Linked DNA regions of Homo sapiens. The protein of the gene in region 1 purifies or fractionates together with the protein of each later gene. This does not show direct contact. Each region holds a gene or a part of one and is shown in the gene's direction. Other genes may lie near its edges.

The links.
Region 2: the proteins of NUDT5 (region 1) and AGBL2 purify together in Homo sapiens (affinity purification with mass spectrometry; one large-scale study listed by BioGRID and IntAct). This does not show direct contact.

What each region holds. Positions count from the first base shown.
Region 1 is NC_000010.11:12,177,533-12,182,518, reverse strand, and holds part of NUDT5 (ADP-sugar pyrophosphatase), read left to right. Parts: intron 1-2,029; exon of another isoform or gene 2,030-2,124; intron 2,125-3,386; coding exon 3,387-3,436; intron 3,437-4,618; coding exon 4,619-4,726; intron 4,727-4,986. UniProt on the Homo sapiens protein: Enzyme that can either act as an ADP-sugar pyrophosphatase in absence of diphosphate or catalyze the synthesis of ATP in presence of diphosphate.
Region 2 is NC_000011.10:47,708,184-47,713,169, reverse strand, and holds part of AGBL2 (cytosolic carboxypeptidase 2), read left to right. Parts: intron 1-2,658; coding exon 2,659-2,793; intron 2,794-4,986. UniProt on the Homo sapiens protein: Metallocarboxypeptidase that mediates deglutamylation of tubulin and non-tubulin target proteins. Catalyzes the removal of polyglutamate side chains present on the gamma-carboxyl group of glutamate residues within the C-terminal tail of tubulin protein.

The sequences.
Region 1 (4,986 bases):
TAGGGTTTTTTTCCTGGCCTCTGAAGAGGATTTATGTAAAGCACTAATATTTTATACCAGAATGTCACCCTTTGAAGAATGAGTCTTTGTACTTTCCTGTATGCCACGATGTATAATTTATAGGATGTGTTATCTCTGACCTGATATAAAAGCCTGCGTGTACAGGTTGAGCAGCCCTAATCTGAAAATCTGAAATTCAAAATGCTGCAAAATCCAAAACCTTTTCATTGCCAACATGATGCCCCAGCTGGAGAATTCCACACCTGACTCTGTGTGACAGGCTGCAGTCAGAACACAGGCATACAACACAGACATTCAGTGTCCCCCCAGGGGAAAAGGAACCCTCCCCTTCAGCTCAGCTATATCCTTCTTTTTTTTTTTTTTTACCCTGAGACAGAGTCTTGTTCTGTTGCCCAGGCTAGAGTGCAATGGTGTGGTCTCAGCTCACTGCAACCTCTACCTCCCTGGTTCTAGCAATTCTATCTCAGCCACTCGAGTAGCTGGGACTAGAGGTGCATGCCACTGGGCCTGGCTGATTTTTGTATTTTTAGTAGAGGCAGTGTTGTTGGCCAGGATGGTCTGAAACTCCTGACCTCAGGTGATCCACCCACCTTGGCCTCCCAAAGTGCTAGGACTACAGTCGTGAGCCACCGCATCCGGCCATATCCTTTTTTTTTAAATTTATTTAATTTTTATTTTTTTAGTAGAGACAGAGTCTCACTATGTTGCCCAGGCTGGTCTCGAACCCCTGAACTCAAGCAGTCCTCCTACCTTGGCCTCCCAAAGTGCTGGGGTTTCAGGCGTGAGCCACCACACCCGGCCCGATATATCCTTTGCACGCACACGGCGACTTCCCTCTGCAGGTACTCCCACAGAGGGTCATGAAATGGCATGTGTGCAGACCGGATGCCCAGCAGCAGTTCCCCACAACACCCTACACAGGGCTGAGACCTATGTGCATGACTCATTGTGGGGTTCTTTGGCTTATTTCCTGCTCTGTGGGGTAAAGATACTGTTCAAAATGTCAAAAAGGCCTGCATGACACCCAGAGGGTAAGGCAAATATTTCAAAATCTGAAAAACCAAACTCTGAAACACTTCCGGCCCCTCGTTTCGGGTAAGGAATACTCAACCTGTACAGCTGTCACTTGGTGTCTGTCGGGGTTGGTTCCAGGACCCCCTGCAGATACCAAAATCCACAGATGCTGAAGTCCCTGATATGAAAATGCAGATACTCAGTATGTATTTGCCTCTAACCTATGCACATCCTCCCACGCACTTCATCTCTAGAGTAATCACAGCACCTAATACAATGCAAATGCTGTGTCAACAGTCGTACTCTATTGTTTAGGGAATAATGGCAAGAAAAAGTGTGGACCTGTTCAGTATAGATGCAATTTTTTTCCTAAATATTTTCAATGGGTGGTTGGTTGAATCCATGAATGCAGAACCCACGGATATGAAGGGCCGAGTCTAAGAGATAAAATAGCAGCTAGAGAATCCTATGTTCCACCGTCTCATTCATGAAAGGGGATGTGGGGTTAATTTTAGAAATATAAAAATATTCCAGTAGTGTTGTGTCTATTGACATTCAAGACAGTGCCGAAGTCACCCTCTGACCCTCCCGCCTCTTGTGTTGGTGAACTAGAGGGAGGAAGGCCAACAGGCTTTTCCATAACAAAGAAGACTAGGAATAGGATGATCTCACTGGAAGCAGAATCCTAAAGCTAGAAGAGGTTTTGGAGAAAACATACTCATTCCTGCTTTTTACAAAGGAGGGAAGAGCCTCAGGGAGGCTGGAGCTCTGGGCTTAGCTGGCGGGCAAGTAGAGACGAAGAGCTGACTTCCAGTCAGCTGTGCATCTCACAGGCCCTTTGAAGTTGTTGGAGCTCTCACTGGGCAATCTTATTCCGAGATTTCTTATCAATGCGTTTCTGTTTTATTGCTGGTGATTTATGGCTCGTTACTGCTTGTTTCCTTCACCTTAACCACGATAATGATGCTCCTCTTTTTGTTTCCCTTATTCCTAGTGTTTGGGATGGGACCTTCAGTGCTTTTCCCAGCACTGTCTTCTTCAGTCTTTAGGACTAACCTTAGGAGGCAGCAGAGAGAGCTATGCCAAAAGGTGTTCATCTCTTGCAATCTGTATGATTTACTTACCAGCATTGCTTGTTGGTCAGCTCCTTGCTACTAACAGGAATGTTGGGCTGCTGTGAGTTGTCATAGAAGTCTGTTTGATTTTCCTGTGTTCATTTTGACATATTTGGCCTTCGGAATTTGGGTACAATGCTGAAAGACCTACAATTTCCAGACAGTCTTTTTGTTTTGTTTTTTAAAAAGCAAATTAAATATTTGAACAATTTTAATGAAAATATGACAAGGTCCAAATTTTAAGGACAGCCGGATAGGAAGCATGAGCAGGAGGGTTCCGAGGAGGATATCTTGCAGCTCTTACTATCGAGATGCAGGTGGTAACTCCTTTTTATCCCAAGCCCCAGAGCCACCCACATGTTTCACTTCCTTTAAAAGAGATCCTAAAATTGTTTGCTTCTCCACTCTGGTCTCTTACCACTGCTTTTTTCTGTTGTAGGGAGAAGAGAGTGAAGGGAGAATGTTCCTTTTATGCCTCGCCCCTTTAAACTGCATAATTGTGTCAGTAACTGGGTTTCCTGTACAACTGTGCCCCATGTTCCAAGGCCAGAAAGTAGAATAGCACAGATGTTACCCAAAAGCTGAGTTGGGTAACAGTCAGAAACCAATAGCTAACCAGGAATAAAGCCATACAAGAGAGCAGGACTGTGCTGTTACTCAGCCCACTTTTTCTAGATAAGATCTCACACATGCAAAGTAGGGGCACTTGCCTACATTTAATAATTCTTCCATTAATAAATGGGAAGGTTCTACCTTCTTAAATTGTGTGTTTTAGGTCACATATTTTAAAAATCAAAATGATATGAAAATCTCAATAGTTCACGTTGTCCATAGTAGCTTTTGTTCCTAGAGACGGGGTGAGTCTTTTCCTATGGCTTCATTTGCATTACCTGCTTATTAATCTGTCACTGGCTGTGCTCCTTGCCCAGAGACATAGGATCCAAACTAAAGTTTTCTGAGAAAGCGGCAGCTCACATGCTTAGCAGGCTTTCTGTTTCGGGGGCACCCAGAAGGTGAGGTGTAGGGTGGCAAGAGTTTTCGTTGTTAATTTTCAGAAGCTATAGGAAAGCAGAATTAGCTTCTTTAATGCAGACGTTTATTGCTGTGGTCTTCTTGACCAGTATCATGAGTACATTTGCATGCATTGCATTTAAGAAGTTCTGGTTGTACAGAGAAAACCTAAGAAAATTCTCTTCTGTAGCACTAATGACTTTTTTTTCTTCTCTGCCTGAACAGAACTTGGGAATCAGTGAAACGTACAACCAGGAAAGAGCAGACTGCGGATGGTAGGAGTGCAAACCTATTCCAACCCTTTAGAAAGGAAGTTAGCACTTGTGATCGTAAGAGGGTTTTCAATGGAACCAAGTTAACTTCTATTAGGATGTTGTGTCTTTAAATCTCCGCTTAGGTTTTGCCATACTATGTAACGAAATTAAGCTTTCTTTATAAGTAACTTCTGGCTTCTGTTATCTAAGCCCAAAACATTGTTTTTGAGGGGAAGTTGTTCTAATGTTTATAACTAAATGTAAATCAATATAGTTTGAAGCCACACCTGTGTCTAGACGTGTTATGACTTCTAGAAGTCCTTGTGTCCTGTTGGAAGGATCTAGATGAGAGGCTTTAGTTTGGAAAGTTACTTGGCACACCTTCATGCTTATGGACCACTTGCTTTACAGGTTGATGAGGACACGGAATTAATTGGGCAAAGCCTATTCCATTCACCCTCCCCTCCAGGCATGAATGCCTTGACTGCAAAGAGCCTACAAACAATCCTGAGAATCACTCTGGTCGAGGGGAAGTTGGGCACTAGGCTTTTCTTATTTTTCCATTTAGTTTTGGTTTCCATTTTTGCTGGAAGCAAACAGTAGCTATGCTGCTGCTGCTGGCTTCACAGATAGGAAGCTGTGGGGAGCCAGGGGACCCTCCTGGGTGCTTTGTGTTTTCTGAAACCCAGTCGTTTTTGTTTTTCTTAGGTTTTAATGAAGGCCAAGTAACTTGAGAGGAAAGGTCTTTTACCCTAAAACTGGAAAATCAGTCTTGCTAGCATTTATTGCAGACAGTGGAACTTACTTGATTTCTTGCTCAAAGTTGACCCAGGAGCACAGGGATGGCTGTGGCCTCACCAGTGGTAGGGCTGCCACACGCTGGAAAGTGGTTCTGTGGAAGGTCAGTGTAGTCAGAAACCTTACATCCTTGACCCTGTAGGAAATGTTTCGTTTTATTCCGATTTTAGTTTAAGAAACTGTGACAATTAAACAGCCTTTTTGTTTAAAAAAGAAAGTGTAAACAACATGGAAGTGATGATTTTTAATTACATTTTTAAAATAGCTTCCAATATTAACTGCCAGTATTGTAGATTAAAACGGAGTTTCTTAAAGTCTGGGGTTTTCATTAGCTTGCTCTAAACAATGTGCTGGCATTGCTGACCTCTCATTAGGGATTTCCTTGGTTCCATTTCCTGGTGACAGGTGTCGCGGTCATCCCCGTGCTGCAGAGAACACTTCACTATGAGTGTATCGTTCTGGTGAAACAGTTCCGACCACCAATGGGGGGCTACTGCATAGAGTTCCCTGCAGGTGAGTCACTCAACATCGAATTGCTTCTTAGGGATGTTGGCCTGAACCAGGGTAAAGCCTGAGAACTGCAAAGCTCAGCTCTGCAGTTTTTAATCTGTCCTTGTGGTTTTAAGTAAAACTAAACCATTTCGTAGCGAGGCTCCTCCAGGCCCCCAGGACACCCCAACAACCCTCTGAACCCGTGAAGGCGACACAAGGCCACCTCCCACCCATCCCAACCTCCTCTTGGCAATGCTGCCTCCAGCCTTTTTTGTTTGTTT
Region 2 (4,986 bases), on another chromosome or scaffold:
CGGGGTTTCAACATGTTGGCCAGGCTGGTCTTGAACTCCTGACCTCAGGTGATCCACCTGCCTAGGCCTCCCAAAGTGGTGGGATTACAGACGTGAGCTTACCGCGCCCAGTGTTTTTTTTATTCTTGAGACGGAGTTATGCTCTTGTTGCCCAGGCTGGAGTGCAGTGGTGCAATCTAGGCTTGCTGCAACTTCCACCTCGCGGGGTCAAGCGATTTTCCTGCCTCAGCCTCCCAAGTACCCAGGTAGCTGGGATTACAGGCGTGTACCACCATGCCTGGCTAATTTTGTATTTTTAGTAGAAACGGTTTCACCATGTTGGCCAGGCTGGTCTCGAACTGACCTCAGGTGATCCACCCACCTCAGCCTCCCAAAATGCCAAGATTACAGGCATGAGCCACCACGCTCGGCCTAATTTTGGTATTTTTAGTAGACACAGGGTTTCCTCATGTTGGCCAGGCTGTTCTCGAACTCCTGACCTAAGGTGATCCACCCACCTTGGCCTCCCAAAGTGCTGGGATTACAGGCGTGAGCCACTGTCCCCAGCCCGCTTATGACATTTTAAAAGATTATAGGAATTGCATTAAATCTGTAGATCAAATTTCACAAGAACTGGCAATTTTTCAACACTGGGTTCTCCAATCTATGACTATAATATTTATCTCCATTTACTTAGGTCTTTAATGTCTCCCAATAAAGATTTATAGTTTTTCATAATACTTCATATTTTTATGCTATTATAAATATTGATCTTCTTAAAATTTAATTTCCTAACTTTGTTACTGGTATATTGAAATAAGATGGAGTAATATTCATTGTATTAGTATTAATTTTATTTCTATCAAAGAATGTTGTTAAACTTTTTTATTAACTACATTAGTCCCCCCTTATCTACAGGGGGGAGGTTCCAAGGCCCCTGGATGGCCTGAAACCACTGATAGTACTAAATCCAAATCACTGTCATTCAGAACAGACTTCTATCTTCCACCCACAAATTTAATGCCTTTTCCACCATAACTAAGTACTTATGTACTGTGGCCATTACTTTTGCAATATGAAGTATGACAGCAAAACTATTATGATATTTATTTATTTATTTTTTAGACGGTCTGTTTTTTGCCTTGGCCGGAGTGCAATGTTGCAATCACAGCTCATTGCAGCCTTGACTTCCCAGGCTTAAGCGATCCTCCTACCTCCCAACTAGAAGGGAACACAAGCACATGCCAGCACACCCAGCTAATTTAAAAATTTTTTTTGTAGAGACATGGTCTTACTATGTTGCTCAGGCTGGTCATCATACAATTTTTTACTTTCCATACAAAGTCAAGAACTTCAGGCCGGGCGTGGTGGCTCACGCCTGTAATCCCAGCACTTTGGGAGGCCAAGGTGGGCAGATCACCTGAGGTCAGGAGTTCGAGACCAGCCTGGCCAACATGGCAAAACCCTACCTCTACTAAAAATACAAAAAATTAGCTGGGCATGGTGTTGCACGCCTGTAATCCCAGCTACTCGGAAGGCGGAGGCAGGAGAAATGCTTGAACCCGGGAGGCAGAGGTTGCAGTGAGCTGAGATTGCGCTACTGCACTCCAGATTGTTGAAGTTTCAATACCCTCTTCATGGGGAGAGAGACATTCAGGGAGGGGTTGTGTAGGCAATTGTGAAAGGTAGTAAATGATATTCAGGAGAAACGAATGAGCTCCAAAAACCATGTCCTGGGACAAAGTTCCTCTGAGCTCCGGGGAGGGGTGGCAAGCAAGTGAGGGGAGGAGCTTCACTGAAGAAAGGTTGTCTTATGCAAATAGTTGCCCAGGTAATCTCTGAGTTGCCCTCAGAATTGATGAAAAGTCTATCTGGGTGTCGTGACAATTTTTAGTCTCCTCTTCGGTGGTTCATCTTTAGTGGTTATTTGATGAGATTCCTAGGGAAGGGGTCTTAAAATAACTGCTTTTCTTTTGGAAAGAAGTTTCCTTAGAAGGAATTCCAGAGAGGAGTCCCTTCCTGCTCTTGGGGTAGTGGGGAGACAGGAGAGGTCAGAAAGTCCTTGATTCTGAGGCAGCTTCTGCAAGCCTTTTCTATTTTTTTTTTAATTTATTTTTTCAACTTTTATTATAGATTAGAGGGTACATGTGCAGGTTTGTTACATGGGTAAACTGCATGTTATTGAGGGTTGGAACCCTTTCTATGTTGAATTCAAAGTGTTCAGTATGCCAAAGTGCCAAACCTTTGGGCCATAATTTTTTTTTTCTTTTTTTTTTTTTTTGAGACAGGATCTCGCTCTGTCACTCAGGCTGGAGGGCAGTGGCCTCCACATCCCAGGCTCAAGCAACCCTCCCAGCCTTTGGCTATCATTTTCTGAGTTCCAACACAGCCCTTGTAGCTTCAGAATCTTTCTGCCTGCCAAGTCCTTTCTCACTCCACTACACCAGGCTGCTTCTCAAGTCTCCTCTTCACATCCATTTCCTCAGCTGTAAGGTGGGGATAATTATGCTTCACTCACATAAGTTGGAATATGAAAGCTCTTTGAAAAATGCAGTGTATTCATTGCAAAGGGCTGTGGTGGTGGGTGGTGATAAAAGGAGTAGTGGTTTGGTATTGACCTAGATGTTAGAAGTGATGAGTCGGCCTTCCAGCAACTTTAATTAAACTGCCAATTTTTAGCTCAGAGAGGCAGTTTACCAAACTCTGCTACGCATCAGCATGTTCGGAAGAATAACCCTCAATGCCTGTTGAATGGCTCTCTTGGGGAAAAAGATGATTTGATACCAGACACCCTGCAAAAGGAGAAGCTTCTATGTGAGTAACAATCAGTATGTGTGACCTCTAGAACCTCATTGCCTAGTAACTCCTCTGAGTATTCAGAAGAATCTGCTCTAACATGGGAGAGGCCAGGGAGCAGCCTTGGCCTCTGTTTCTAACACCATTCAAAACTTCTCTCTAAATCTACTTTGGATTACAGGTTTAAATCAAAATACTGTATTTTCTAGCCGGGCATGGTGATCACGCCTGTAATCTCAGCACTTTGGGAGGCTGAGGTGGGAGGATCACTTGAGGTTAGGAGTTTGAGACCAGTCTGACCAGCATGGCAAAACCCCAGCTCTACTAAAAATATAAAAATTAGCCGGGTGTGGTGACACACACTGGTAATCTCAGGACTTGGGAGGCTGAGGTGGGAGGATCACTTGAACCCAGGAGGCGGAGGTTGCAATGAGCCGAGGTTGGGCCACTGTACTCCAGCCTGGGTGACAAAGTGAGATTCTGTTTCAAAAAAAAAAAGAGTAATACACCTGGCATCGTGGCTCACGCCTGTAATCCCAGCACTTTGGATTGCTGAGGCAGGCAGATCACTTGAGCTCAGGAGCTCGAGACCAGCCTGGGCAACACGGCAAAACTCTGTCTCTACAGAAACATACAAAAATTAGCTGGGCATGGTGGCAGGTGCCTGTGGTCCCAGCTACTGGGGAGGCTGAGGCAGGAGGATTGTGTGAACCTGGGAGGCGGAAGTTGCGGTGAGCTGAGATTGCGCCACTGCATTCCAGCCTGGGCAACAGAGTGAGACCCTGTCTCAAAAAAAAAAAAAAAAGTAATACATTGATTTTTACAGTTTGATGGATAATGCTTACTAAGGCTCTTTGCATAGGAGCAGTGGAAAACAGTTCTAGCTAGCTTACACAAAAAAATAATTTTTTGCAGAGACACAGGTTTCTTCTAAAATCCAAGGGGAGGAATCCAGTTGAACTTCTCCCTCAAACCAAACACTGATCCACCCCTCTTTTCTCTACAACCCCCCCTGCTTATCCCCAACCTCCACCGCTACCCTTACACCCCCACCCTCAGAGTCCTACCACCTCCCATCCAAGCTGTCATCATTCAGCCTCCTAATTGGTCTCCTGGCTCCTCTTGTTCTGTGCTGCCCCGCCCCCTCCAATCAATTTTCCACATAGCAGTGTTTTTTATATGCAAATCTGATTAGGTCCCTTTTTTACTTAAAACCTTTGAATGACACAAGATCTGAAAACCGTAAAATACAATATTGTTTTGTTTTGTTTTGAGACGGAGTCTCGCTCTTGTCGCCCAGGCTGGAGTACAGTAGCACTATCTCAGCTCACTGCAACCTCTGCCTCCCGGGTTCAAGCTATTCTCCTGCTGCAGCCTCCTGAGTATCTGGGATTACAGGCGCCCGCCACCACTCCTGGCTAATTTTTGTACTTTTAGTAGAGACAGTGTCTCGCCATGTTAGCCAGGCTGGTCTCAAACTCCCAACCTCAGGTGATCGGCCCACCTCAGCCTCCCAAAGTGCTGGGATTACAGGTGCGAGCCAACACACCCAGCCAATATTGATAATTTTTTTTTTTTTTTTGAGACAGAGTCTTGCTCTGTCAAAAGGCTAGAGTGCAGTGGCTCCATCTCGGCTCACTACAACCTCCGCCTCCTGGCTTCAAGTGATTCTCCTGCCTCAGCCTCCCGAGTAGCTGGGACTACAGGCACGCGCCACCATGCCCAGCTAATTTTTGTATTTTTAGTAGAGACGGGGTTTCACCATGTTGACCAGGATGGTCTTGATCTCTTGACCTCGCGACCCGCCTGCCTTGGCCTCCCAAAGTGCTGGGATTACAGGCATGAGCCACTGTGCCCAGCTGATAATTTTTAAAGGAAAAATTTAAACTTCTCTTTGGAAAAAATACCATTGATAAAGTAAAGGACAAACTAAAAAAAAAAAAATTTGCAACAAATATGCCAAAGGGTTCATTTCCTTTACATATAACAGCTCTTTCAAATCAGTAAGTGTTAATAAAAGATGATTGGGCTGGGCACAGTGGCTCATGCCTGTAATCCCAGCACTTTAGGAGGCCAAGGTAGGCGGATCACCTGAGGTCAGGAGTTCGAAGCCAGCCTGGCCAATTTGGTGAAACCCCGTCTCTACTAAAAATAGAAAAATTATCCCAACGTGATGGTGCCCACCTGTAATCCCAGCTACTCAGGAGGCTG